Linked DNA regions of Homo sapiens: all the other regions are linked to region 2. The links come from fine-mapping of genetic effects on gene expression. A gene starts in region 2. Each other region holds a variant in brackets. All regions are shown on one strand. Distances are between the middles of the regions.

Region 1 (10,377 bases), 250 kb before region 2:
CCAAGGGCAAATAGGACACTATCACCACCCCCATGCTGTTGAAGCTTCCATATTACATCTGTATTTCTAATCTTCCCAGATAAGATGTGGGAATAGTGTGGGAACTAAAACCAATGTATTATGAAGATGCTGCAGAGAAGCTCCTAGTCTCATCAATAAACGTATTACTAACATTTAAATAAATAAAAGATTTTGTCAGGCTGGGCACAGAGGCTCACGCCTATAATCCTAGCACTTTAGCAGGCCGAGGCTGGCAGATTGCTTGAGTCCAGGAGTTCAAGACCAGCGTGGGCAACATGGCAAAACCCTGTCTCTATAAAAAATATAAAAATTAGCTGGGGCATGGTGGCATGTGCCTGTTTTGTTTTGAAATAATAAAAAAAGTTGTTGTCTTACATAACCTGTTGCCAGAAAATTTTCTCCCTAATTATTTTCAAGAAAACACTTTAAAATAACAAAGGTGTGAGCATTTCTTTTTTTCTCTAGGAATACCAATTCATATACACTGGGCTTTTGCTCCAGTACTGCTTTCTGGGTTTAGGCCAGATAATTGTCTTAAAAGAAATAAAGTGATTTTTGGTATTTTAGTTCTTAACTCCCTCCACAGAAAGGCCAAGATCTGTCTTATGCAGAATTATATGTACAGGGTACTGCACACTGAGTCCAATGATCTACATGTATTCAAGCCCACAACAATCCTGCTGAAAATCTGGAACATATAAATGTGTCCTTCAGGACTCCATCACAGCCAAAATCAGCACCTAAAGCTGTGTATAAGTTTAAAATTTTAGTGACTATAACAAAGGCATTCTCCCAAAATTCCATTCAGTGCATGTGAAGATGGTGAAATGCCAGCCACGGAGACTTGTCTCTACTTTCTATCTTTGTAGAGCACATGCTTTTCACTGTGGAGCATAAAAATAAAAACTTAAAATGGTAATTTGTGAAAAGAGTTAAGATCTGCATCCCTATGATTGAATCTTGATTTTTGATTCTCAATAGGAAAGTCATGTCAGTCATAGCAATCAAGCAATAATTCAAACAAAATAAAAATAATTTGAAATATTATCAAAGTACTGCCTTCCATAAACAAGGATGCACATAAAATTCAAACTATTATAAATTCAAGAAATATGAAGAGTGATTTAAAAGCACGGAAACTTCAAAACCTTACAAAGTATAAGACTCCTAAAAATATGCCATGTTAAATGTATCATGTTGTGAACATATTAATAGATGTATCTCCATAAATGCAGCTTTTCAGATGTTGCTGAACATCTTTATGAAAAATCCTTTGGAAATGAGTAATGCGGACATTTTAGGTGTATTTCCATTTGATTTTAATGCCTGACTTACAGCTATCATGATGATAAACTTTCTCAGAGTGTCACAGTATTTAATATAAGCTGATATGGAAGAAGCTATTTTTTCAGATGACTTTTCAGTGCATTGAAAGATGGTTCTCAAAGCAGTCCCAATACAGCTCACAGTAGATCTCTGTCAACCCAGTGTTCTTCCAACTTACAGCAAGCCCTAGCTTAACTGGCCATTACAAGGATGTAAATATGTGGATGGAAGGAGAATGTGCTTAAAAAACAGAAATCTCCAGAAGGCCTTTTCTTCATTGCAGTCAGGAACATTGCACATGTAAAATTCATGTTAACCATCATCTATTGGAACGACTGGAAAGTGATAACCTGCCAATTGTGCTTCCTTTCTTCACACCACTGAACCAATGAACTTTGGATCTAATGTTATCCAACTGAGGAACCAAGTGCTTAAACTGTCATTTTCCAAAAGAATCAGAACCAATCTTGAATGATATTTTTCTTCTGTTATGTCACCTGTTTACAAACAAAATAATACAGACCATTAAAAAAAAGACCCTTTAAAGATACAGTGTATTTACGTTCCCTCAAAAAGTGTAAAAAAGACATTTTTTACAAAAGGCCATGACTGTATTCTTAAAGCAGTAAAAATGAAAACAAAATAATCTAAATACAGATTTTGATCACTTTTAAAAGACTATTAGATTTTCATTTTTATTATTTTTACTCTAACACTGTATGAAAACTATATACTAAAAAGGTAAATTCAGTCTAAACTATTTGCCCCATAAACTGCTACTAGAGTAAGAACAACTAAATGGTGTCTTCAAAATGCAGTAGAAACTGTTTTTGTTAGACTAACATTTAGAGGACAGGATTAATACCAATCTTTAAATGGATACTTCACCCGGGCATTTTATTGAAAAGTGTTGTGCTTAAGATCTATGGGGCGTACCCAAAGCACAGGAGCATTTATATAAAAGACATACTCTTCAGATAAAAGCTGACAGGAACATGAATAAAGTACCAACTTAATACAGTTCTGCATTTTCTAATACTGTAGCTACATGTGGCTAATGAGCACTTGATATGTGTCTAGTGTGACTGATCTAGTTTGATTTAAATCCAGTTTGATTTAAAAATCTAAAACAGTAAGTACTATTTTTCCATTAAATACAATTTTGCTGTTTTGGTAGGACATTTCTCATTAAGTATCAGATCCTTAGCATTCAAACTGAGATGTGCTACTAGTATATATAAAACATACACTGAATTTTGAAGACTTAGTGTGAAAAAAAGAAATAGAAAGCAATGTCCTTAGTTTTTAATGTTGATTATGTGTTGAAGGATACTACTTTGGCTACATTGTGTCAAATAAAATATTACAAACATCAGTTTCACATGTTCCTTTTCATTTTTGATGTGACTATTGGACATTTTAAAATTACATGTCTCAAACTATATTTCCTTTGAACTACATTGCTATAGTTACTTTAGAAGACTCCTACAGGGGCCTAGCACAGTGGCTCACGCCTGTAATCCCAGCACTTTGGGAGGCTGAGGAGGGTGGATCAGTTGAGGTCAGGAGTTCGAGACCAGTCTGGCCAACATGGTGAAACCCCTCTCTACTAAAACTTCAAAAAAATTAGCTGGGCATGGTGGTGCGCCTGTAATCCCAGATTGAACCCGGGAGATGGAGATTGCAGCGAGCCAAATACGGCGCCACTGCACTCCAGCCTGGCTGACACAGTGAGACTCCATCTCAAAAAAAAAAAAAAGACTCTCACAGGAAACAAACTAGAAGCTTATTTATTTATTGAGACAGATTTCCTCCTGCCTCAGCCTCCCAAGTAGCTGGGACTACAGGTGTGAGCCACCACGCCCAGCTACTTTTTGTATTTTTAGTGGAGATGTGTTTCGTCATGTTGCCCAGGCTAGTCTTGAATTCCTGGGCTCAAGTGATCCACCCACCCCCAGCCTCCTGAAGTACTGCAGAATTACAGGCCTGAAACTTAAAGTTCACACTCAGCCTGAAACTTATTTTAAACCTCTATGTAATTACATACATTTTAAGAAATTTCCTTGAGCATGACTATGGCTATCTCTGGAAAGAGAAGAGTTTCAGAGGGGAACGAACAAGGCAGAACAAGGGACCTTCATTACCTACTTTATGAATATTCAAGAAATTAGCTCTTAAAAGTATATAAGTACATTAATGACAAAATCTATAATCAAGAAATCTGGCCAGGCACAGTGGCTCACACCTGTAATCCCAGCACTTAGGGAGGCAGAAGCAGGTGGATCACCTGAGATCAGGAGTTTGAGACCAGCCTGGCCAACATGGTGAAACCCCATCTCTACAAAAATACAAAAATTAGCTGGGAGTGGTAACACACGCCTATAATCCCAGCTACTCCGGAGGCTGAGGCAGGAGAATCTCTTGAATCACGAGGCACAGGTTGCAGTGAGTCAAGATCACACCACTGCACTCCAGCTTGGGCAACAAGAGTGAAACTCAGTCTTGAAGAAAAGAAAAAAAGAGAGAGAGAAAAAAAAAAGGAATCTAATAAATTAATGGGAAATACAAATTGCGGTAAAGCCTTCTTAGCCATTTGTAGATAAAAAGTTCACAGCCTTTTAGTCTCCATGATCACAAAGTAGTGATACACAGCTACTTCATCACTGCCTAATCAGTCCATACTAGTCTATGGTTTGCTTCTGGGTTAGCACACATTTAGTAAAGGGAGACTGCAAACTTCCAAGCTCATATATTTTCTAAGTGTTTCACTGTTTCTCTCTCAACATTGTACCACATATTCCAGCCATCAGCCGTCTCCCACACCCCCGAAAAAAGTTTTAAGCAATTTTCAAAGTGTATACACCATGCACCATGTTAACATCTGATACTAAGGCTAAATTAGTAGCCAGAAGCTATGAGTAACATCCCAGCCACTTGAGTATACAAAATGCTGATGCAATGTCTAGGGTTAGGCAGGATATGGTGGGATGGGAGGAGACAGACAAGGATAGGCTGACTTGAGCAGCTGCTGGTGTGCTGTGAATGGGCCACTGTGGACCATCTGTAATGAAAGAGCTAAACACACATTTATGTGAAGGTCCAGCTGTGGAATTAGTCAGTGCAAAGATGGTAGTTTTAGGCACAAGCTTAAGCAGCTTCCTGAGAAGCTACAGCAGAAGGAAACAACACATGGTAGTAAGAACTGTAAAGTGGGAGACAACCTACAAATATCCACTATGGAAAAGATTCCCAGTTAGACATACCTGAGAGTCTAGACATTCACAAACTGATATGCATCCCTCTCTCTCTCTCTCTCTCTCTCTCTCTCTCTCTCTCTCTCTATATATATATATATATATATTCCTTTACAAAGCATAGTGGACATATGTACAAGCAAAAATAACTCGAAGTTACTTTGGGATCCAAAAACATAAGTCATACAAAGTGACTGTTACATGTAACTGTATACATAATAGGAAAAAAAGCAGGATAATGCTACTACTGAATGTTGGCTGAATCATGGTGAATGTAATATTACCCTTTTTAAGTTATTGATTGATGCAGATGCTGGTGGAGAGGTACTACAGGAATATTTACCTAATGAACCCATACCCAAAGGAACAGGTGAAACTGCTTTCAGTAATATTTTACCTAATGTAACTAATAGAATCTTTCAATATGTAATCAGTTGTTTAAAAACTGACATACATTACATTTTTATATTATGTCTTCAAAATCTAGATGTGTACTTGCATATACATTAGATCTACTCAGAATTCTTTTTTTTGGGCCAGGCATGGTGGCTCACACCTGTAATCCCAGCACTTTGGGAGGCTGAGGTGGGTAGATCATTTGAGGTCAGGAGTTCGAGACCAGCCTGGCCAAGATGGTGAAACCCTATCTCTACTAAAAATACAAAAAAAAAAAAGAAAAAAGAGCCGGGCATCATGGCAGTCGCCTGTAATCCCAGCTACTCAGGAGGCTGAGGCACGAGATTCACTTGAACCCA[C/G]GAGGTGGAGCTTGCAGCGAGCCGAGATCATGTCACTGCACTCCACCCTGGGTGAGAGAGTGAAACCCTGTCAAAAAAAGATTTTTTTTCTTTGTTGTTCTACTCAGAATTCTTAAGTCAAGGACAGAATGTCCATTTTTAATAAGCTCCCCAAGTTAATTCTTATGATCAAACATGTTTTAAGAATTATTATGCTAATCGGGGCAACCATAAGGAGACCCTGTCTCTACAAAGAAATTAAAAAATTAGCCCGGCATGGTGGCATGTGTCTGGAGTCCCAGCTACTTGGGATGCTTGATCCCAGAAGGTTGAGGCTGCAGTGAGCCATGAACGTGCCACTGCACTCCAGCCTGAGCAACAGAGGGAGACTCTGTCTCTAAAATAAAAAAAGAAATTCAACAAAAATAATTCACAGGGCTAACACATGAATTAATTATTCCTTTACTTATTCCCTTCTAGGACTCAAGTCTTCCCTACTTTGGTGAATGTTTGAAGCCTAGAGAAACATATTCCATCAAGAAAGAATAATAATTAATAGAACATGTTTGTATACTCTATAAATTTTATACAAATTACAACATTTCAGTTACCATCATTATAAATTTGATATACTGTTTAATTTATACCATGTTATCTTTAATGTTTCTATATATTTGGTGTAATCTGTGCCATATTACTCTATAATTAGTATATTAAAATGTAGTAGACTATAGCTCTCTATTATATTAGGAGAATGCTACATGTGTAACCAAAGAGAATCTTAATATGTATAGGAGTATTCATTAGATATGTAGATAATTTTTATATATTAATGATACCTGCAAATTTGTCTAGATAATACAGTAACTGTGACAATAAGTAGTTTTTTTTAAGGGTTTAGAAAGTTAAATAATCAGACAATGCAACAATTTTTCCAGAATGATCTTAGAAAACTCCTTTGAGGTCAGCTAACATGACATCAAAATTCAGTGTGCATAACAGTTTGTTACTGAAATACTTTGTCAGAAAAGGCTTTGCATTAAAAAAAAAATTGACGTATTGATTTCTTTTTACAGACGGGGTATTGCTATATTGCCCAGGCCGGATTTGAACGCCTGGGCTCAAGAGATCCTCATGCCTCAACCTCTGAGTAACTGGGACTACAGAAGCGAACCACTGAACCTGGAAAGCCTTTTTTTTTTTTTTTTTTTTTTTTAAGACTGAGTCTCACTCTGTTGCCCAGGGCAGTGGCACGATCTCAGCTCACTGCAACCTCCGCCTCCTGGGTTCAAGTGATTCTCTTGCCTCAGCCTCTCGAGTAGCTGGGATTACAGATGCCCGCCACCACGCCCGGCTAATTTTTATATTTTTAGTAGAGAAGAGGTTTCACCATGTTGGCCAGGCTAGTCTTGAACTCCTGACCTCAAGTGATCTGCCTGCTTCAGCCTCCCAAAGTGCTAGAACTACAGGTGTGAGCCACTGTGCCAGGCCCTTTTCTGTTTTTTTAGGGCAAGAATGAGACTGTCACTTTACTTGCAATTACAGCTGTATAGCAGAAATTTTTAATGAGGAGGACATTTTTAAAAATAGTATTTACATAGCAATAATCATTAAAAAGTTATCTTAAGTTTCTAGAAACTACAGAATTAAGTAAAACCTGAAGTTCATAAATTTGTGATCCATGCTAAAATTGGGTTATAAAACAAACGATATGCCTCAGGCTCAATAAAAAATACCCCAAACCTCATCATCCGATATAAAACCTGTATTACTGAATGCTACTAAAGACAATAAGGCCGTTTACTTGTTAGTTCTCCCAGTCTGTGCAAGGTAAAGCCTCCTCTTCGTCCTCTGACTCTGGGGATGCTTCTTTAATTCTTCTAAGAGCTTCATGGATGCTCCGTGTTAGAGGGTCTGTATCGGGTAGAAGTGTGAAGGATTCTCTCAAAACATCCTTCTGTACCTTCTTCAATTTTACCCCTTTCCTTATTTGTGCCAAGATATTATTACTATCATCTTCATCAGGAAAAGGAGGCAGAGTTCGCTGTTCAACCTTTTTCAGATGAAAACTACCACGCTTCAAGGAGGCTAGCACCTCATCCATGGGTGAGCTCACTTTGGAAAATGAAACAGAACAGTATTACAGTTAGGACTGCACTTAATTAGAATGAAACTGTATAACCTCTACCGTTCGCAACTGTGAAAGCACAGGACGCTGAAACACCATCTTCAAAATGGATCATGAAATGTGTGCAGAAGGTGATCAGAACACAAGGGATCCTAATTATCCTTCTTTTTAGAAAATCCCAAGACCCAATCCATGGTGGGTACTGTTGGTATTCCTATCATTTCCTACATGAGAGAAGTGACCAGATTGGGAACTGGGAGGTGGTCTTAGTAGTATTATGGGTGTGATTCCCAAAGGATTTCCATATTGCAGTTGCTCCACCCAAATTCAGAGTGATGGGGTTACACATTTTGTTTTTAAAAATTAATTTTTGTTTATTATGGAGACTGTGCTTTTTTCATTTAGTTGTTTTACATGTGAAATCCTACTCAGATTACATCAAGAAATGTTTTATAGAATGGTCCTTCAGGTTAAAATGTAATATACAAGTAATATGTAACATTTATATAATGTTCTCCCCATGCAAAATGCAAATTCCTTAAAGGCAAAAGGCAAGGGTTATTCTCTGCTCTTTTTAGAAATAATTTTATTTGTGCTTGAATCTCTCTTAACAAAAAAAATTAGAAAAAAAAATAGTAACCTTATTGAGGCACATCTGTCACATTGTAAGTTGAACAGATTACTCCCTGTTCTTCTTTGCTTCTTTATACAAATACACAAAAGTCCTCAACAAATGTATGAACAAATGTTACATGATCCTGCCAATGTCTTCCCTGTGGTGACAGTCCTTACCAGATATCTTACCCTTTCTGATATGAGTATTTTTTTAAAAATCTCAGGTTTAAAATCAAAACTTTTTCCCTAACACAAAAGGAGCCACCCATTATACATTACCAAACATGAATGTATCACTTTAGAAGATCTGTTTTTAAAACATGCCTAACAGCCCAAGAAGGCATACATTTCTGTGTACTTTATGCACTAAGAATTCTCCTCTAGTGTGACTTTGAAAACCTGTTTACTATCAAATAATGTCAAAAATAAAGTGTTTTAAGCTTTGCAACGTCAAAAAATATAGTTTTTTACTATGCCTGATGTCATACAACAGATGGACCATGAAAATATGTTGACGTACCTCTCCTCCTCTGCAAACCTTCAGCAGTCTTTCTGAGCTTCTTCCGTGCACTGACCAGCTGGCTGCTGTCAAAGAGGTGTGCTGAGGGGGCACTGGCTGACTTTGGGATCCTCTTCTCATTCCCCTCCTTTCTAGGCAGATCTTTCTCCAGTGTCTCTGGGCCACTGTCCTTAGCAACAGGCAGAGGTGGTGGTGGTGGGGGAGGGGGAGGAGGTGGGGGAGGTGGTGGTGTTGGAGGAAGAGGGGATGGGAGTGGATTTATGGTAACAGAACATGGTTCGAGGTTGTTATTCAAAAGTGGAAGAGATATAGTGGGAGGCAGTTCAGAGGTAACACCACTGAGAGGTAATGAGGTGGCTTCAAGTTGTGTTAATGAAGTATCTTCAAGTTGCACAAGGCTCTGGGGTTCTGTTGTCTGTGATGGCCCACGCTTGACTCTTCCTTCTCCCACCTCTTCAGTTTTCTCTTCTACCTGTAACACACTTGGTAAAGAGTCACAATGATCCTCTTGGAGAACAGGACTTGCTGCACCTTTTCTTCTTGCATGAGCTAGTCGTAATCTGGTTGATTTAAGTATGACTTGCCCAGGATACCTCTAAAATACCAGAAGTTATTGGAACTGGTTAAATGTTATTGAAACAATTTATGAGCACATGCCTATTTATTTTCTCCTTCAAATAAAAGATGTTATGTGGCCGGGTGTGGTGGCTCACGCCTGTAATCCCAGCACTTTGGGAGGCCGAGGCGGGTGGATCACCTGAGATCAGGAGTTTGAGACCAGCCTGGCCGACATGGTGAAACCCCGTCACTACTAAAAATACAAAAATTAGCTGGGTGTGGTGGCAGGCACCTGTAGTCCCAGCTACTCAGGAGGCTGAGGCAGGAGAATTGCTTGAACCCGGGAGGCGGAAGTTGCAGTGAGCCGAGATTGTGCCACCGCACTCCAGCCTGAGTGACAGAGTGAGATTCCATCTCAAAAATGTTATGTTGGCTTATTGGTTATTTCACCCTTAAAGTTATACAGAAAATCCGAAAGTACCTAATAATAGCTTACAAACAATTATGAATTTATTATTTGCCTATCAAATCCACGATTGATAATTCAAATATTCAAAATTATGATTAAAAAAAGATTTTTAGTGAATAAAACTACTAAATGTATAAAACAAATAGCATGTAAAATGCAAAACATAAGTGATGTCAAATGTATAAATGCTACTGGTATGCAAAAAGTTTCCTATGTTTTCAAATGCACACACGAGAAAATTAAAATATTCTTTAACAGGTTACTTGGCATTTTTAAAAAGCTCCATCAACTATATATCCATTTTATGACAGAATGAAGAGAGAAATACATTTTTTTCAGTACTTACTGGTAGAACTCTTATATATATTTTACCATGGTAAGACCTTTTGTTTGTTTGTTTGTTTTTGAGACAGGGTCTCACTCTGTTGCCCAGACTGGAGTGCAGTGGTATGATCACAGCTCACTGCAGCCATGACCTCCCTGGCTCAGGTAATCCTCCCACTTCAGCCACCCAAATGGCCGGAACCACAGGCATGTTCCACCATGCCAGGCTAATTTGTATAGAGACAGGGTTTCGCCATGTTACCCAGGCTGGTCTTGAACTCCCCGGCTCAAGCAATCCACCTGCCTCAGCCTCATAAAGTGCTGGGATTACAGGCGTGAGCCACATTTACTTAATAACAAGGCTTTTCCCCTGCCTCACCTCCTTTTTTTCCACTGTAACACTTGTTCAAAAGCCTACTTCACCTACA
Region 2 (10,377 bases):
TGTAGGGTAAAACTAAGCTGTGTAAAAAAGAGGCCCCCACAACAGTGGCTTTAAATAAAAGTAGTTTCTTTTTCCTCTGTAAGAGGAAAGCCACTGTTTGTGGGGGACTCTTTTTTACAGAGTGTGCACCAAATTGCACAGTCCTTTTATCTTATTGCTTTGCCATTCCCTACGGCAGGGGTCAGCACATGACAGCCCACAGACCAAATCTGGCACATCACCTGTTTTTGTAAAAACAGTCTTAGGTAAAACCCTGCCCATTGATTTACATATTGTCTAATGGCCACTTTTCCACTACAGTAGCAGAGTTGAGTAGTTACCACTGAGACTGTATGGCCCCCAAGGCTAAAAATAATTACTATCTGACCCTTTACAGAAAGCGTTTGCCAACCCAGCCCTAGGGTACTGTCCTCCTCAGCATGGGGGAAACTGGATCAGAGTCACGTTCATACTCTGTCTCAAACGATGAGGAAACAGTGTGGCAAAGCTCATCCTAAAGTTTTTAGCTCAGACCTAGAAGTGACTCATCTCATTGACATTTACATTTCCTGCGTGAGAGTTTAGCCACATGGCTCTACCTTGCTGCAAGGGAAGCCAGGAAGTATCATCAGTGAATGTCCATGTGTCCAGCTCCAACGCTAATCCTTCGGAAGGAGGGGGAACAGATTTTGGAGAGAAACTGCTTCTGTTCTAGTGTCTGGCATCTGCTATTTCTCCTTTGCTTACTCCCCACACAAAGTGACCCACCCAGGTGTCAGGAGCGAGCTTCCTTGGATACCAAGGAACAAAGAGATCCCAAACACATTTTGGCCATATTGCTTGATATACTATTTTCTTCAATCTTTTCCCAGGAGGCTGGAAGGCCATAAAGGCAATAAAGAATAAGAGGGAAGCTAATTTGATCTTGGTTACAGGAGTCTTTGTCCTTAGCTGGGTCAATCCTGGATCTAATAAAAGCAACCAGAAATTAAAGCAGACGTGAGGATCTTCCCACAGAGCCTCCCAGGACAGTCCTGTTAACAGTATGGAACCAAACATGAGAGGTCAAATATGGCTTGAATAATCTCTTAATCTCCATCGAATGGCATGACTAGAGAGGGGGCTTATTCTAGCTTTCTCCCCATGTTCAGTTTAGCTGCAGAAGTACAAACCACTCTGACTAAGCAGAAAGGAGTTTAATATTGAGAAATGGGTACATAAAAAATTTACACTGGGCTTCCAGAAATGACCCCTAGAAAAACATGACTGAATTGGCCGGCTGGGGCTGCACCCTCTGCCACAACTAAGAGAAGCCACTATTGAACTGTTGGCTTCAGGACACAGCTGTCATATAGGGAGAAGGAGGCTGCTCCAGCGACCTCAGCTGCCCCTCACGTGACCCTGGAATGCTGCACTATGGCCACATTTGCTATGCTTCCACCTTCCCAGACTCATACTGGTGCATCTGATTGGGGATGCTAGTTCTTATCCAGATCCTAGCTGCAAAGGAGTCTGGCAAAGTGGTTAGTTTTCTTTCCTCTGCAGTGCAAGAAGGTCCATCAGAAGGGGTTTAACTAGAGGTAAATACCAGGTCACTCTACCTACAGCATCTTTTTACTGTGCACTTGGAGGGCAGGCAAATGGAGCCCAGCTGTGTGAACTATGTTAAACATAAACACTATTTTGGCAGAGAGAGCTCTCAACTCTGGTTATTTTTCCATATTTTATATCTAAAGCTGAATTTTAGCTGAATGCAGAAGAAATGTTAATATTTACTGATTCTCATCTCTTTCTTTCTCCTCCCTGCATCAAATGCAATTCACTCTTTTCAATTTGTACTTTTGAAATATAAAAAAGGCCTTAAATTTTGGACGTTTATTGAGACCTTCCACATGTCAGGTATAGTTGTGGGCAAGTGGGATAAACATCAGAATAAGACAAGGTCTCTGCCCTCCACAAGCTCAAAGTCTGGCTACTTTGGGGAAGGCCAATAAATCAACAAATAATCACAGCAGAATGTGACCAATAAATGCTACACAGGAATACAGAAGAGAAAGTCAGAGGTACAGTTACTGTGTACAAACTGTTTTCCTGAAAATCCCATACACTTCATTAGGTTCACCATGTTAAGAATCAAATTTAGGCCAGGCGCGGTGGCTCACGCCTGTAATCCCAGCACTTTGGGAGGCTGAGGCAGGCAGATCACTTGAGGTCAGGAGTTTGAGACTAGCTTGGCCAACATGGTGAAACTCCATCTCTACTAAAAATACAAAAATTAACTGGGCATGGTGGCAGGTGCCTGTAATCCCAGCTACTTGTGAGGTGGAGGCAGGAGAATAGCTTGAACCTGGGAGTTGGAAGTTACAGTGAGTTGAGATTGTGCCACTGCATTCCAGCCTGGGCAACAGAGTGAGACTCTGTCTCAAAAAAAAAAAAAAAAGAATCAAATTTACTCAAACAATTGTCGAGGGAAAACATTGGCACAGAATTCAGATGTTGTAGGTTAGCTTCTCACCTCCCACATCCAACCTATCACAGGGTTATGCCAAGTGTATTACACATTTCTCAAATGCCCCACCATCCTCACTGCATTTGATTATTGAAATGGTCTCCAGTTCTCTCCAGCCCTACTCTGAACTGTCTTCCATTGCTACCAGAGCACAGGCTCACTGACCCAGTCTCACCTGTGATTATACCCCTTTTGTGTCCTGCTTAACTTCACAGATCCTTCATTCATGCATCCCCCTGTACAGCAGTATCTGGTTACTTACTTGTCACCTCAGTTTGACTGTAAGAGGCTTGGGGGCAGGTGACATATCTTATTGGTCTATATCCCTACCACCACATATAACAACTAAAATGAGTAGACACTTAAGAAACTATGCCAAGAATTAGCAAATAAACAGGACTGTTTTGAAAATGTCAGATGTATTGCATATGCTAGAATTTTTGTCCTGAAGAAGAAAAAATGTTACTCTTTAGCAGACAATTAGGTAGGTTTTAAGAAAATTGTAGTATATATTTTGACTGTGTCTTTATGAAACCAAGTAAAGGGAGGACATTTTCATTTGTTATCTGGATGTTTGTCCACCATTTTAAATTTGCCATTTTTCTTTTCTTTTCTTTCTTTTTTTTTTTGAGACAGAGTTTCACTCTTGTCGCCCAGGCTGGAGTGCAGTAGCGCGATCTCAGCTCACTGCAACCTCCACCTCCAGGGTTCAAGCAATTCTCCTGCCTCAGCCTCGCAAGTAGCTGGGATTATAGGTGCATGCCACCATGCCCAGCTAATTTTGTATTTTTTAGTAGAGACAGGGTTTCACCATGTTGTCCAGTGTGGTCTCGAACTCCTGACCTTAGATGATCTGCCTGCCTCGGCCTCCCAAAGTGCTAGGATTACAGGTGTGAGCCACTGTGCCCGGCCAATTTGCCATTTTTCTACATAGCCATTAGCAAAATAACTAAGTTATCAAGATTTGAGATCAGAGCATCTTTTAGCCCTTCCTTCACTGCTATTCTAACTACCTCAATTAATTACTATACCAGTATGATCCCTTCTTTAGTTTTTTTTTTTTTTTTTTTTTTTACTTTTAAGTTCAGGGGTACATGTGCAGGATGTGCAGGTTTGTTACACAGGTAAATGTGCATCATTGGAGGTTTGCTATATGGGTTATTTCCTCACCCAGGTATTAAGCCTAGTATCCATTAGTTATTTTTCCTGATCCTCTCCCTCCTTCCACCCTCCACCCTTCGATAGGCCCCAGTGTGTGTTGTTCCTCACCATTATACTAGTACGATCTAAAGTCAACTGTAAAATTATAAAGACAGGAACATGTAAAATAAGGAACCCTGTAAATTAATTTTGCAGTACATTTATATTTTCATTCCCTCCTCCCCATCAGTTTGGCAGTGAACCTGCCTTGCATCTGACAGCGAGCTCTAGGGTGCATTTATGCCCCCTTTTTGCAGATATCACTACGTAAGACCTCTGGGTTTAAGATCTGGCTTCAAGACATCTCTATTCATACTCAGTGGGGATCAACTTCACTGTGTAGTAGGAGGTGATCAGAAAAACCCAGTCTGTCTAAAATAACTTCCCCTTTTCCTAGATTTGCCAGCAGAACTGCTCTTTTGGATTTAAGACCTAATTGGAGGTCTTGTCTGTGGCAATTAAATGAATTCTTAAAATGTACCTGCTAGCTGAGGAGAGAGGTGAGATTAGTTCCTTCCCATTAACACCTTAACTCCCAGGTACACATTCACATGGATTAGTGTGTGATAATCTTGGTGTTGTAACAGTAGAGGCCCCAAAGACACTGAACAAAAACAGGGCATTTTAAAAACGTTTAAAAATATGAACTGTAAAGATGAACATAGCATTAGAGAAAGTTGAGAGAAAAAAGCACAATGTTCTTTGATTATTTTTATTAACTGTATTCTTTCAATGCTCACATTTTGCTTTTATAACCTGAAAAAATATCCTAAAACATGCTTTTTAAACCAATATTCCACATCTTGTGTAACTATTACCATTATTGTGTCCTTCCTTACAGTGTGTATATAAATATTTGTATATGGTTGGGATCAGTTTGTGATATATTTCCTTTTGCAACTTAACATTGCCAAGGCACTTAGCTGGTTCTCATACTAAGTTATTTAACTGTCTAATAACTTAAGTAGATGAACCTTAATTTATTTAGAATCCCGTATTGCAGAGTATCTTGGTCGTTTCTAACTTTTTAGTATAAATAGCTCGGTGGTGCACATTTCCACGCATAAACTGCCCCTCCTCCCTTCCTCCCATTCTGAATGACAGGGCTGGAGCGGGTGGGGGTCTCTGAAGGGTCCTGGGGATGTCTTTCGTCCAAGCTCATGCCCTTCCTAATTTTGCTTAGTCACTCCTTCATCCCACCCCCACACATACTCGACGTAGAAATGGCTGGGCATAAAGCCAACATCTGGTGACCAGACCAGGAAAGGGGCCAGGAGCTGGGGACCACCGGGTGAGAGGAGGTTGAGGGGTGCTAGCGAATCCCACCTACCCTCCACCCTGCACCGCAGCTCTGGGGGCGTCCTTGCCCAGGACTAGTTTCAGACCAGCCGGCGACTCGCAAGGCCAGGCTGCTTGGCCAGGCTGCTGACTTTTCCAAAACGCGAGGGGACAGTCCGAAGAGTTCCCGGACGGATTAGCCCAAAGAGCTGCGGGCGAGGGTCGGTTGAGGGAAGAAAATGTGTGCGCGACATGCGTCCGAAAGCTAGACTTCTGATCCTCGCTCCCCGCGGGGCTGGACCCGTGACCCTGAGCTAGTCGCCTGACTCGCCGAGCCTCAGTTTCCTCACCTGTGAAATGGGGATAATTGTGAAGATGAGGAGATAACTTGAGCACAGCACTCTGTGCAGCGCCAGGCACCGAGTAAGGGCTCCATAAACGCTAACCAACCCGTGACAGGGGAAAATTGAGGCTCAGGGCCATCCCGTCCAAGTGTTTTGCCGAGGCCCCAGGGCTTGGCTAGGGATGGACGCCGGGTGTGAACGGAGTCGCTCGCAGCCCAGCGGCCAGGAGCTCCGCGAGGATCGAGGGGACGAAACTCACCTTCTTGGCCCCCGGGCGTCCAGCAGGTGCCATGGTGCCGCGGCTCTGTGGGCGCCGGGTTCCCGGGCGCGCGGCCGTCTAGGAGCCCGCCCCCAGCCCGGGGGGAGGATCCGACCCCCGCCCCGCCGGCCCCGCGGCCTCAGGCTGCCCGCTGGCCTCGGAGCAGGCGCCTGCGCCCTCGGCCTCGGCCTAGTCATGCTCCGTCCCGGCGCGCAGCTGCTGCGGGGCCTCCTGCTGCGGAGCTGCCCGCTGCAGGGCTCCCCCGGGCGCCCGCGCTCTGTCTGCGGCCGGGAAGGGTGAGTGGGGCCCCGTCCTGCTCAGAGGCGACGGGGCGGCTGCGGGGGTGGGAGCCAGAGGCTGAGGCAGGCTCAGGGGTTAGGAGCGCTCTGGCCTCCAAGAAATAGGCCTTGATATATCTTCTCGAATTATCTTTTAATTATAAAGTGAAACAGTATCCAAAGGTTCCCCGTGTAAAGTCTCTCCTGCCCCAATCCCCTTGGCCAGTGAACAATTGTTAATAGTGTCTTCTGAATCTAACCAGAGACAGTCTACGCATAGGCAAACACAGGTCAGTATAGGTTTTCCTTTGGCTTTTTGACATCTTGCTTTTTACAATTATCAATATATCTTGGAGATTGTTCCATATCAGCACACACTGACTTGCCTTGTTCCTTTTAATGGCTGCATAGTTTTCCATCCTGTCAATATTCTACACTATCGTTAGTCTATTCATTAACATTTAAATGGTTTTTGGTTGTTTATTACTGCAAATAACGTGCATGTGAAAATTCTTAGGCATCTATCTTTGAGTACATATGGGAGTCGGTAGCAACAGTTTTTAAAGGTGAACTTGTTAGGGAAAAGGTTACGTGCATCTGAAAGATTGAAAGACAGCAACACATTCTCCAAGTGGGTGGCAAGAGTTTGCATGCGGCACACCAGTGTGTGTCTGTTTCCCACATCTTCCCTGGTTCCCAGAATAGCCCATTTTGTTATCTTTGCTAAATCTGATAGGTAAAAATGGCATGTCCTTGTTTTGATTGGTCTGTATTTAAATATGAGCAATGCTGAACATCTTTCGACTTCTTATATTTGTAGATTATTCCTGGTTGCCAGGAAAGGCTTGTTTATCAGCATCACTCAACATTATTATGAGTTGATTCGAATTTTATTTTATGTCCTATGACCTGAAATTCTGGAATCAGAAGACCTGCTTTTGAGTTCCATCTATCCATTCAACAAATATTTACTGGGTGTTGTGATGTGCTAGGTTTGTCTCCAGTACTGGGAATGCAGTAGCCACCAACTCACAGTTCCTGCGCCATCTGTTACACAGAATGTGACCTTACACTTCTGAGGTTCAGTTTCCTCATCTATAAAATGAGGATACTAATTTTGCTCTATATAACTCACAGGATTGCTGTGAATATTAAATAAGAGAATGCATGTGAAAGTGCTTTGTAAATTGTAAAGCAATGCAAAAATATTTATAATAATGATGTTTTTAATCCAGTGCAAAATAAAATGGAAATTTAACAAACAAACTGATTAGATAAATAAGATACAAATTTCAAGACTATCCAAAAAATTCATATTTTGGCTGAGTGTGGTGGCTCATGCCTGTAATCTCAGCACTTTGGGAAGCTGAGGTGGGCAGATTACTTGAGGCCAGGAGTTTGAGACCAGCCTGATCAACATGGTGAAACTCTGTCTCTAATAAAAATGCAAAAATTAACTGGGTGTCATGGTGTGCACCTGTAGTCCAAGCTGCTTGGGAGGCTGAGGCGGGAGAATCGCTTGAACCTGGGAGGCGGAGACTGCAGTGAGAACCGAGATTGCACCACTGCACTCCAGCCTGGGCGACAGGGATTCCATCTCACAAACAAAAACAAAAACACCCAAAAGTTGAGTTATTTCAATTGCATATTCTTTATATACCCAATTTCAAACTATCAAAAAATGTTTTATTTTGGAAAGCAGTTGAACAAGCATACAGTTTGTGCTTATCATTTCTAATACAGAAGATAACTGACCTGGGTTTTTTGCATGGCTCCTAAGTTTTATTTCAAATACTCTTATAAACATCCTCGACTACATTCAGAAGGATTTTAAGATAGTTATCCACATAATCAAAAACACTATACCTAGTCTGAAACCTATTATGGCATGCTGGGCCGAGGAAATACTATATATTTGATAATGCTTTATCATATGTTGCCAAACAGAACCTTCACAGCTCCGTTTTGCAAATGAGAAAACTTTGAGACCCTTGTGTAAATTTCTCTAAAATAGCTGTTCAGTTGGATTGGGGACTCAAACCCAGGTTTCCTGATCTTAAGTTCTCTTTTGTTGTTGTTGTTTCAACTGACCACTGTCCTGAAAGAAATAATTCTTTCTTTTGAACACACAAAAAAGAACCTTTAAGATTATTATTTTTGTCACCACTATAATGGTTTCAACTAAAGTACAAGATATGCCCAGTCTGTTTAAAAATGGATTTCCGTCCAAAGTAGTTGGGTCATATGTACATTATTTTTTTCTCACACAGCATACAAAGAGACATTAATAGTCATCTAAAAACCGGTGAAACAAAACTGCTGAAACATGTTGTGGCACCAGGAAATAAGGACATGCTCTAAGAATTATGTAGCCATGTCAAAAGCATACAGGAGTCAACTGAAAGAACCTCCTGCTGGCCAAATCTAGGACAATTTGGTATTCAAATAAATGATGACTAGTAATGGATTAGAAACCACTGAAAACAATAAATATCCATAAATTCATGTTAATATAAACAACCAACAAACAAGGGTGAAAGAAAATTACTTCCTTACAGTAGAATGCCAACTATTAAATATAATAGGAATGATGGGGTTAGGAAATAATCAATAGATGTTAAAGCCACTCAGTAAAAGTTTGATAAGGACCAGGATATTTACATGGTCTCAAAGTAACACTTCACATTATTACTTATACAAAGGAAAAAATGGTAGCTTTACTAGACAAATCAGACAGACACCACCTTAAGCAAGTCATCAGACAGAAACAACACCAATATCAGGACAAACCAACATCATACGCTTCTTAATCATATACACTGGGAAGGAGTCAACATCAGTTTCATGATGTTTTTGCCAAAAATGCATAACATAAGTCTCATCATGAGGAAACACCAGACAAACTCACAGTAAGAACTGTTCTATAAAATAACTGGCTAGTACTGGCCGGGCGTGGTGGCTCACACCTGTAATCACAGCACTTTGGGAGGCTGAGGCAGGCGGATCACGAGGTCAGGAGATCAAGACCATCCCGGTTAGCATGGAGAAACCCCGTCTCTACTAAAAATACAAAAAAAAAAAAAAATTAGCCGGGCGTGGTGGTGGGCGCCTGCAGTCCCAGCTACTTGGGAGGCTGAGGCAGGAGAATGGCATGAACCTGGGAGGTGGAGCTTGCAGTGAGCCGAGATCGTGCCACTGCACTCCAGCCTGGGCAACAGAGCAAGACTCCATCTAAAAAAAAAATAAAATAGAATAACTGGCTAGTACTCTTCGAAAATGTGAAGGTCATAAAACACAAAGGAAGTATTAGGAACTGTTCCAAATTAAAGGGGATTAAAGAGACAGAATCCTGGATTTGATCTCTGACTGGAAAAAAGTAGCTATAAATTGATTGGAATAATTGATTAAATTTAAATATGGACTATAGATAATAGTATATCAATGTTAAATTTCTTGACTTTGAAAACTGTACTGTTGTTATGTAAGAGAATGTCCTTTTTCTTACCAAACTAGCAAAAGAATATTTAGAAGTAACTGGGTATGATACCTACAATTTACTCTAAAATGTGTATACACATAGAATATACATATTATAATATACATATATGTATAGTCATGTGCCTTATAATGATGTTTCGGTCAATGATGGACCACATATACAATGGTGGTCCCGTAAGATTATAATGGAGCTGAAAAATTCCTATCACCCAGTGATGTCATAGCTGTCATAATGTCATATGCAACACATTGCTCACGTGTTTGTAGTGATGCTGGTTAAACAAACCTACTGTGCTGCCGGTCACATAAAGCTATAGCACATGCAATTACATACAGTACATAATGCTTGACAATGATAATAAATCACTGTGCTACTGGTTTATGTATTTACTACACTATACTTTAAATCATCATTTTAGAGTATACTCCTACTTATAAAATAAAAAGTTAACAGTAAAATTGGCTCAGACAGGTCCTTCAGGAGGTATTCCTGAAGAAGGCATTGTTATCATAAGACATGACAGCTCTGGCCGGGCATGGTGGCTCATGCCTGTAATCCCAGCACTCTGGGAGGCCAAGGCAGGTAGATCACTTGAGGTCAGGAGTTTAAGACCAGCCTGGCCAACATGGTGAAACCCCGTCTCCACTAAAAATACAAAAATTAGCTGGGCGTGGTGGTACGTGTCTGTAATCCCAGCTACTCGGGAGGCTAAGGCACAAGAATCGCTTCAACCTTGGGGGTGGAATTTGCAAAGATGGCGCCACTGCACTCCAGCCTGGGTGACAGAGTGAGACGCTGTCTCAAAAAAAAAAAAAAAAAGGAAAAGAAAAGAAAAAGAGATGACAGCTGTGTATGTGTTATTGCCCCTGAAGACCTTCCAGTGGGACAAGATTTGGAGGTGTGAAGACAGTGATATTGATGATCCTGACCCTGTGTATGCCTAGGCTAATGTGTGTGTTTGTGTCTTAGTTTTTAATAAAAAAGTTTGAGGCCAGGCACAGTGGCTCATGCCTGTAATCCCAGCACTCTGG
Region 3 (10,377 bases), 21 kb before region 2:
GCACAGCAAAAGAAACTACCATCAGAGTGAACAGGCAACCTACAAAATGGGAGAAAATTTTCGCAACCTACTCATCTGACAAAGGGCTAATATCCAGAATCTACAATGAACTCAAACAAATTTACAAGAAAAAAACAAACAACCGCATCAAAAAGTGGGCGAAGGACATGAACAGACACTTCTCAAAAGAAGACATTTATGCAGCCAAAAAACACATGAAAAAATGCTCACCATCACTGGCCATCAGAGAAATGCAAATCAAAACCACAATGAGATACCATCTCACACCAGTTAGAATGGCAATCATTAAAAAGTCAGGAAACAACAGGTGCTGGAGAGGATGTGGAGAAATAGGAACACTTTTACACTGTTGGTAGGACTGTAAACTAGTTCAACCATTGTGGAAGTCAGTGTGGTGATTCCTCAGGGATCTAGAACTAGAAATACCATTTGACCCAGCTATCCCATTACTGGGTATATACCCAAAGGAGTATAAATCATGCTGCTATAAAGACACATGCACACGTATGTTTATTGTGGCATTATTCACAATAGCAAAGACTTGGAACCAACCCAAATGTCCAACAATGATAGACTGGATTAAGAAATTGTGGCACATATACACCATGGAATACTATGCAGCCATAAAAAATGATGAGTTCATGTCCTTTGTAGGGACATGGATGAAATTGGAAATCATCATTCTCAGTAAACTATCTCAAGAACAAAAAACCAAACACCTCATATTCTCACTCATAGGTGGGAATTGAACAATGAGAACACATGGACACAGGAAGGGGAACATCACACTCTGGGGACTGTTGTGGGGTGGGGGGAGTGGGGAGGGATGGCATTCGGAGATATACCTAATGCTAGATGACGAGTTAGTGGGTGCAGCGCACCAGCAAGGCACATGTATACATATGTAACAAACCTGCATGTTGTGCACATGTACCCTAAAACAAAGTATAATAATAATAATTTTAAAAAAAAGCGGTTTGAAATAGTGTATCCCACACTCATGTTTTAGTTGAACAGTTAAAATGCTTGTGTTGGTTTTACTTTTTTAAGACATTAAAATGGTTCCCATATTTTAATTTTTTTTTTTTTTTTTTTTTTTGAGACAGAGTCTCACTCTGTTATCCAGGCTGGAGTACAGTGGTACAATCTTGGCTCACTGCAACCTCCACCTCTCGGGCTCAAGCGATCTTCCCACCTAAGCCTCCTGAGTACCTGGGACCACAGGCACACGCCACCACACTCCACTAATTTTTCCTATTTTTGGTGGAGATGAGGTTTTGCCATGTTGCCCAAGCTGGTCTCAAACTCCTGAGCTCAAGTGATCCACATGCTTCAGCCTCCCAAAGTGCTAGGATTACAGGCATAAGCCACCATGCCCAGCCAATGATGCATTTTTGAATGTGCACTTTTGTCTATTGCTAATGACCCTGAGTCCTAACTCTCTCCTCTGTCCTAAATGCTTCCTCATCTACTCTGGTCTGGGCCTTCTCAGGGTTGCCCCCTGAGCCATTCTGTTTGCACAGCCTGCCATTTCACTTTCTGATGCCCCCCATTTCCTCCTTCCAGTCTCTTCAACTTCAGCTTCTTTAAAAGAGCACAATCTGATGCTGGTCTGTCCTACACCATGTGCGTGTTCTTCAAAATACTTTTGACAAGAGGATTCAGCAAGGCAACATAAGAGAGTGGCTTATTCATCTTTGCATCCTTTGACCTTAGCATGGTTTGTACATTCATTTACTTATTCATTCATTCAACAATTTTTTTTTGAGTTCTATAATGTGCCGGATGCTGAGAATACAACAACTAACAAGATGTTTTCACTGTCCTGTTGAGTAGGGAATAGGCAAGTAAACAGGAATGACCAAGGGAGTATTAAAACTACATTGAACTGGCCGGGCATGGTGGGTCATGCCTGTAATCCCAACACTTTGGGAGTCCAAGGTAGGTGGATCGCTTGAGCTCAGGAGTTCAAGACCAGCCTGGCCAACATGGTGAAACCCATCTCTATGAAAAATACAAAAATTAGCCAGATGTGGTGGTGGGCGCCTGTAGTCCCAGCTACTCAGTAGGCTGAGGCAGGAGAATCACTTGAACCCAGGAGGCGGAGGCTGCAGTGAGCTGAGATCTTGCCACTGCACTCCAGTCTGAGCAACAAAGTGAGACTCTGTCTCAAAAACAAACAAAAAAACCAAAACAAATAAGCAAAAACTACATTGAACTTATTAATGATAAATATAGGGTACTATGGAACATATAAGAGTGACTATCATAGTCAAGCACTAAATAAATGTTATTTGAACAGTGAATGAATGAGTGATTGAATGAGTGAATAAATTAAAAAATGGTTGAACATGATTAGTTATGAAAGCACAGAACCCTCGAGGTGAGTTGCCACCACCAGATGAAAAGATTCTCCTCCAACTTCACTATTTTGAAAGGCGGGCTCATCTGCACCTGTATCATGGAAAATACAACTTTTATTTCTCTTTCTCTCCTCTTCCCACCTCTGTGCTCCAGATAAATAATGGAGGTTATAAATGAAACGTGACTGCCAGCAATAGCACCACTAGCATGCCCCATCTACTTTTCTCAAAATCCTTTCACAAAACAACACTGATATGAGGCAAAATTGCACCCTTCTGCAACTCTTTTCAGGATTTTCATTACTGATTAAATAAAATATGTGCTCACCTTCAAGGCAGCTGACTGTACAGCCAAAGTGAGTTGCTTAACTTTGTTTATGATTTTGCATAAAGTATCAAATCATGGCTGTGATCATTGCAAAGCAGGAATTGTTTTTCCAGCTGACCCTCGCCCCTAGTTTCAACAAATCTCTTCGATCCCTTTCAGTTGGTTTCCATGCCAGCTATTTGCTGGTCTGCATTGCTGAGTCTATGCACAGCAGGGTTTATCAGAGGGCCATCTGCTCTTCTTGATAACTCCAGTACAGCAAACATCTGCTGTAGAACTGGAAAGAGCTAGTTCAAGCCAGTTTTTCTTAATTGCACTGTTTTTTTTTGGCAGACAATTACCTTCTCCTTAATTTCCCCCTACAAAATCAAAACCTGTGGAAATCTTGCCTTTTAAAAACGCCTCCTTTTTATATTCTAAAATATTTAGCATAAATTATAAATAGTAATCAACATTTAGTATGCATTTTAAAAAATTGCATTATTTCCAGAAATTAAGAACATTTTCCTGCATTGCCAAAATTAACCTGATTCCTTAGTCAAATTTGCCCAGTTGTTCCCAAAAGACCTCTTATAGCCAGTTTGTCTCAACCAGGACCATGCATTGCATTGGTTTGTCATATAAAGATGAGCAACTCCAACACAATGACCTGTGGAAAAGACCAGGCCAGCCAGCCTGTAGAATATAGGATTCACCTGATTGTGGTGTTTACCTTGTTCCTATATCCCTTGATTTCACTGAACTGGAAGTGAAATCTAAAGGCTTGATTAGATTCCCCCAGGCACTTCTGGCTGGTGTACATCATTGGTAATGTAGCGTTTCCCATTCTGTATCACAACAGGAAACTCATGTTATCTGATTTTTCCCCTTGGAATCAGAAATCTTGACATATGTTTTAAAACTAATTTATTTTGTAGAAAAAGTAATACCAAACCATATTAACAAATGTAGACACTAAAGAAGGGCATCAGAGAAAAGGAAGTCTTCCTCCTACACCACACTTTCTATCACCAGTCTTTCTCCCCTAGGAGGGAGATATTCCTTCCTGAAATATTCTATGTACACACAATGGGAGCATACTTTCATTTAACAATATATGGAGGAGATCCTTCCATCTTAGCACATATTGATATAATGTACTCTTTGTAATGATGCCATGCTTTAACATCCTGTAGATGTTCCATAATTCATTTACTAATATGTCATTGATGGATATTTAGGTGGTTTCCAGACATACATATTTGCATATATATGAACATAATTGCAGATTATATTCCTAGAAGTAAAATTGCTCATCCAAGGGCATGTGAATTCTAAATTTTGTAAATATGGACCAATTACTTTCCAAATAGTTTGTACCAGATTATGCTTCTACAAAAAGCATATGTATGAGAAAGTCTTTTCCCCTGCACCCTCATTGACATATTATCCACTTATTGATCCTAGTTGATGATAGGTGAAAAAAGGTATCTCGTCACTTTGCTGTGCATTTACCTAATTTTGAATGTGTTTATCTTTTTCTATATTTAATGGATTAAGGTAATTATTTCCTAATTTATAGATTAAGGAAACTATCCCTTAGCTTATCAAATGTATGCAAATATGTGTGGCAGGATATTAGTACTCAGATTGTGTTATTCTGTTCCCCCCACCCTTTTTTCCCAGCACTGGAAAGATATAAGGCAAATATTTCCCCACCTCTAATAAGGATGCCATTGAGAAAAGAGGACTTCACTTTCCTATTGCTTTTGGAGTGATGTCCTATTATAATAACATATGAAGAAAAGAAAGTTTTTCTGAAAACCTTACATAGTTGTGGGGATTGAGGGAGGTGGGGAGGAGGCAGTACAAAGTGCACGTGGGGGCGCACAGGAGCTGACCATCAATCCCCAGAAGTTGCCCAACAAGGGAGAGGACCTGCTTCTTGGGAAGGAAAGAGTCAAGTGGGGCTGGCAGGTACCATGTTACGGGATAACATATGAATGCTCAGAAACTGTCCGAGCTCTGTGTCAGTGCCTGTAGATCCAACGACCTGGCCCTCACATCATCTCCACGAGGTGCACTGTGCTTCCTGGGGCACCTGATCCACAACCTCATATCCTACACCTGAAACAGTGACCATCAACATGGCTGATGGTGTTGATGCTAGTGCTGACCCCAAGGCTTTGCTTGGTCCCAGCTGGGTACACTGTCCTCTCATAATACCTGTAAGCCCAAGAAAATGGAGTGGAGTGGGGTTCTGAATGCCAATCACATAGGCGAGCCCCCCTCACAACATCTGTTTGGGTTCGGGGAGGTTTGAACAAAAGCAGCTCAAGACCCCTTTACTGGAAGAGTGGTTTCTGACCTCTGTTACACAGTTTTCCTATTTGCCTTTGCCTTTGTTTAGAGTATTTTTGTGTGAGTGTTCATACATTTAAAGTTTTTATATGGTAAAATTTATCTTTTTTTCTTTCTTAATTTTTATTTTTATTTTATTTTATTTTATTATTTTTTTTTGAGACAAGGTCTTGCTCTGTCACCCGGGCTGGAGTGCAGTGGTGTGATCACAGCTCACTGCAGCTTCGACCTCCCGGGCTCAAGCTTCAGCCTCTTGACTAGCTGAGACTATAGGCATGCACCACCATGCCCAGCTAATTTTTGTATTTTTTTGTAGAGACAGAGTTTTGCCATGTTACCCAGGCTGGTCTCAAACTCCTATACAGTTTAGCACACCTAAACTGTACAGTAACTAGATAAAAGCCTTTGTTTGTGCTGGTGCAGACCCAAGGAAGGGATTCGGTGTGGAGACATCTCTCCCTCCTAATGTACCTTCTTCACTCTTGCTATTCTCATGATGTCCTGCACTGCCCTCTCCACAAAATCTATGAAGCAAGCAGGAGATATTGTGTAAAC[G/A]GTCCTCCCCTGGAATGTGGTGTTCAGGACTACATACTAAAAATAAGCAGAGGCTTTGGTACCAGAGTGTTCCCAGAAGACAGTCACCATGAGGATGAGGGGATTGGAAACCAAGTCAACATAATTATATTATACTATATAATGTGCAATGAATGCCTGTTATACGACATGCACTGTTTCTAAGAAACTTATCTCATTTAATCCTCATAGCACCCTAATAAGGATGGTTCTATTTTACCCTCATTTTACAGATGAGGAAATTAAGGCATAAAGCTTAAGTAACTGTACAGTGTCACACAGGTAGATTTGACAAAGCACATCTTAGCCTATGCCTTTTAGTTGAAGGAAATGAGGACAAGTAAGTATAGGAAAGCCATACAGCTATCTTTAAATTTCAAAGAGTTATATGGAAGAAATTATAAATTTGCACTTTAGGTGCTCCAAGTCTGCAGGTGAGGGTCATTAATAAATAGATTTCTAGTTAATACATGGAATAACTTTCCAGAGAATGAAGTGTTTCTTAAAAAGGAGTAAGTGATCTCGAGAGGTAGTGAGTTACTATTTAAGGGATTCAAACAGGGACTGGATGGTCCTGATGAAGATGCTGGCGAGGATATTCAGGTATTTAATTGGTGGTTTGGATTAGTCACCCTTAAGGACCCCAAAGGCCTTGAGATAATAGTAAATGATTCACTTTCTAATTTCCAGCAGGGTGGGGTTGTGTATTATGGGTAAAGTGGCTATATCAAATAAATTCCAGGTTGTCAACATTACAGAAACAGTCATGGCAGGTTTGAAGAGTTAATTCATAATAAGGAAAGTTGATAAAAAATACTTTGAATCCAGCGACAGAAAAATTTGGATAGATTTTTGACAAAAAGCAGCAGCTGTGTGCATGACAGATGCCGTGTAGTGCAGTAGCTAAGGGCATGGATTCTAGAGCCAGCCCCATGGGTTCAAATCCAAATTTACTAATTTCACATTTACTAGTTGTGTGACCTCAGGCAAGTTACCTAGCCTCCTTAAACTTCAGTTTCCTTACCTGTAAACTACTGTGTTAAACACTATCTAATTTTGAATCCCTGTTGGGGGGTATATGTAGATGAGATCATCTTTAGAACAAAGACTGCGACATAGTGAGTAATAAATATTTGCTAGTATTATTCCAAAGAATGTTCATGACATTTTCGACATTCAAACACTATAAAAGGTAAATCATTTTTATTGCCACAAATTGATAAATTGTTGTGAAAAAAAGAGAAACTGGCACACATGAAATAACACAAACATAAGAAGATATAAGACCAAAATAGATTTGAATTATGTCTCCCAGGCTGGATTGCAGTGGGGCGATCTCAGCTCACTGCAACCTCTGCCTCCCAGGTTCAAGCAATTCTCATGCCTCAGCCTCCAAGTAGCTGGGATTACAGGCATGCACCACCATGCCTGGATAATTTTTGTATTTTATTTAGTAGAGATGGGGTTTTGCCATGTTGGCCAGGCTGGCCTTGAACTCTTGACCCAAGTGATCTGCCCGCCCTGGCCTCCCAAAGTGCTGGGATTATAGGTGTCAGCCTGTGCCCCTGGCCTAAACTCTGACTTTTGAAAAGGTTTTCTAAAACTTTATTTTTAAACAATCAACAATAAGTATTTCACTGTGCACCTATTAGTATGTCTAACACAATGCTAAGTAAGGGGAATTATGAGAAGATTATAAGCTTATCACGTGATCTTGTCTTTAAATAGTTTATAACCTAGCTACCTATGATTATGAAGACACATTTTAAAAATTCTAGGACCTAATATCTTTTTTTTTTTTTTTTGAGATGGAGTCTCACTCTGTCACCCAGGCTGAAGTGCAATGGCCTGATCTCGGCTCACTGCAAGCTCCGCCTCCTGGGTTCAAGCGATTCTCCTGCCTCAGCCTCCCGAGTAGCTGGGATTACAGGCACCCGCCATCATGCCCGGCTAATTTTTGTATTTTGGTAGAGACAGGGTTTCACCATGTTGGTCAGGCTGGTCTTGAACTGCTGACCTCAGGTGATCCGCCCGCCTCGGCCTCCCAAAGTGCTGGGATTGCAGGTGTGAGTCACTTCGCCTGGCCAGACCTAATATCTTTAAGTAAAAATCATCTTTGAAAGTAATCACTTTGGATAGTTAAACATTTATTTCAATAATGCTACCATTGCTCAAAACATTCTTTACATCTTTTCTTTGGGATTGCCTTTGGAGTCATTGTATAAATCATTAAAAAAAGCAGACTCATTGCTTTAGTTTAGTGTTGCTCTATCATCCTCAAGTATCTAGCTTAGTCACTTGAATTATTCACTAGCTTTGGGTCTCAGTGACTTCTGATTATTTTAAAGTGTCAAATTCACCCTCAAAGACAAGTTTGGCTATTCTTCATGATCTTCAAAGGAATGCACCACAGCATGATTGGACAGTAAGTTCTTGGAGAACAAGGTGCCTCTCTCGCTTCTCTTTGCATCTCTGGTAGAGTCTGTTGCAGTGCTTAACCACAGCAGGAGCTCAATATGCACACACTTGTGGGCTGGAAGGGAAGGGGCTGCAGCACCTCAGCTGCTCAGCAGCTGGAGATAGCAGGGCATGGTGAGGATGAAGGTGAGGAACGGTTCCAGGTCAGGCTTGAGGGCAACTTTTTCCTGTTCGATTATTTCAGGGTTTTCTTTCACTACTCCTTAGAAGTCTGGCTTTGACAGCGAAGGACAGAAAGGTCTGCCTGAAGCTGGCAGCAGATTCTCCCAATACTCCCTTCGAGCCCTGTGTTTCAATATATACATAATTAATTAATTAAAAGTCTTACCTATAAGTCCAATATGTCATATATGTATATATGTATGTATATGTATATAACCACACACACACACACACACACACACACACACACACACACAGTCAAAACTTGGTGGATAATCAGGCTAAAGCAGAACTTTTGTTTTAACATACAGACGGAAAACTGTGTCCATATCCATTAATGCCAGGGGCCTTTCTTACATTTCAATAACAATCATTAGGTTTCATACCACCTTTCAGAAAAAGACAACGTATTTCAATTTCATATACTTTTTATTTTGAGACAGGGTCTTGCTCTGTTGCCCAGGCTGGAGTGCAGTGGCACAATCTTGGCTCACTGCAGCCTAGACCTCCTGGATTCAAGCAATCCTCCTGCCTCAGCCCCCCAGGTAGCTGGGACTACTGGCGTGCACCACCACACCAGGCTAATTTTTGTATTTTTAGTAGAGACAGGGTCTCCCCATGTTGCCCAGGCTAGTCTCAAACTCCTGAGCTCCAGTGATCCGTCTGCCTTGGCCTCCCAAAGTACTGGGATTACAGGTGTAAGCCACCATGCCCAGCCTTACATTTCACATACTTTTATGAATTATATTTATTCTGAAATTTCTAACAGAGTCCTTCTAACTCTATCAATATTTTAATGTAATGAGAAGAATACGAGAACAGTTTTTAATGTAATGAGTCAAAGTATAATTCTCCAAAAAGTAACTAAGAAAATAATACAAATTACTTTACCAATATTTGTTTCTTGTTGTTAGACAAAGGAAGAAGAGTACAAAGGTCCCTGGTCGTAGCCCTTTCTGATGAATATATTTTTATTGTTTTTTCCACTTTACTTACAAAACAATGAATAAATCAATATTTTTGGATGATGAGATGTCAGAAATCTAGTGTTTATTGTGTAATCATAAATTTCTGTGAATATCAGTAGGTTTGGGAGTCAGGGTAAAAAGGGTGTCTTCTTGCTTTGGTCTACAGAATAATGTTTTAATTCTAATAGCTAATGAATTTTAAGGATTCCTAGCAGATGATAATTAAATAAACTACTCACTTATTTAAACTATTTTAATCATCACCAAAGTATGTTTTCCTCACCTTTTAATTATATTTATATTTAATACTTTTTAAAAAGTATGACACATATACAAAACATCTTCTCTGGTAAATATCCATATCTCCTAGAAGAAAGCTTTGGCTAAGTGATTCTTGCCTACTTTTACAACCTAAGTAAATTTGCATTAGGCAAATTTTTCCAGTTCAAAAATGAAGACTTTCAAATCCCACTGAAATGAATAAATAAGCACAAAATGGGTGAAGTACATGAGAGTACTGAACAGAGAGAAGACAGCAGAGATTGTGACTAGTTCTAGAAGATGGAAGGGGGATGGAATTATATCAACAGATATACATACATATGTATATATATATATATATATATATATATACACACACACACACACATACATACACAAAAGATTATCTATATGGAAAGATAGAGAGAGACAGAGTATGAGTGTGTGTGTGTGAAATACAATGATCCATAACAGAACAGTAATTTTCTTGAGGCCCCAAGAAAAATGCCTTCAATAATAAAGTGACTTACTGTAACAAACAATATAATTTAGAAATTATAAGACCTCAGGGAAAGTGAAGCCCTGTTATTTTTCTTTCAACAATGGAAAAGGAAGTTAATCAGAAATCCCTAGAAAACCAAAGGCTATACAAAGAAAGTCAGACCAAGTATGAAGCAAATTGAAATATGGCATGGATTTGGACAATATATCCACGGGAATGCAAGAGAAGAAAATTCATTTGACCTTGATGCTTGGAACATTCTCCAACAAGTAGCTCAAGTTTTGTAAATAGGATTATTTCTCTTTATCCATGGTCCCATGCATACTACTTTGTTCTGCAGTGAACGTTTTTCTAAATGCAACAATTTTCTATTATTCCTGC

Alleles and levels. Alleles are on the strand shown, and positions count from the first base shown. SD is a standard deviation of normalised expression in the study named.
For the expression in prefrontal cortex of the gene that starts at base 5,711 in region 2, allele G in region 1 goes with a lower level than allele C (moderate effect, 0.41 SD a copy in BrainSeq).
As copies of A replace G in region 3, the expression in atrial appendage of the gene that starts at base 5,711 in region 2 goes up (small effect, 0.37 SD a copy in GTEx).

The links. PIP is the estimated chance that this variant, and not a neighbour inherited with it, causes the effect.
Region 1: its variant is the best candidate, but not a certain one, in a credible set for the expression of DMGDH in prefrontal cortex (BrainSeq, PIP 0.78).
Region 3: its variant is the best candidate, but not a certain one, in a credible set for the expression of DMGDH in atrial appendage (GTEx, PIP 0.79).

The regions. Positions count from the first base shown.
Region 1 is chr5:79,313,073-79,323,449 of GRCh38, reverse strand. JMY (junction mediating and regulatory protein, p53 cofactor) reads right to left here. Exons shown (of 11, transcript NM_152405.5): 9 at 8,599-9,193; 10 at 7,140-7,450; 11 at 1-1,844. The coding sequence ends at 7,143. LOC102724530 (a long non-coding RNA gene) reads left to right here. Exons shown (of 3, transcript XR_001742756.1): 3 at 5,816-6,441. Among named protein-coding and RNA genes, the nearest start is that of JMY, 82 kb to the right of the region's middle. The variant C/G (reference allele first, on the strand shown) is at 5,357.
Region 2 is chr5:79,065,008-79,075,384 of GRCh38, reverse strand. It overlaps DMGDH (dimethylglycine dehydrogenase), which reads left to right and starts at 5,711. Exons shown (of 16, transcript NM_013391.3): 1 at 5,711-5,865. The coding sequence starts at 5,765. BHMT2 (betaine--homocysteine S-methyltransferase 2) reads right to left here and starts at 5,618. Exons shown (of 8, transcript NM_017614.5): 1 at 5,570-5,618. The coding sequence starts at 5,602.
Region 3 is chr5:79,086,504-79,096,880 of GRCh38, reverse strand. It overlaps BHMT2 (betaine--homocysteine S-methyltransferase 2), which reads right to left. Exons shown (of 8, transcript NM_017614.5): 8 at 6,812-8,388. The coding sequence ends at 8,307. Among named protein-coding and RNA genes, the nearest start is that of BHMT, 20 kb to the left of the region's middle. The variant G/A (reference allele first, on the strand shown) is at 5,608.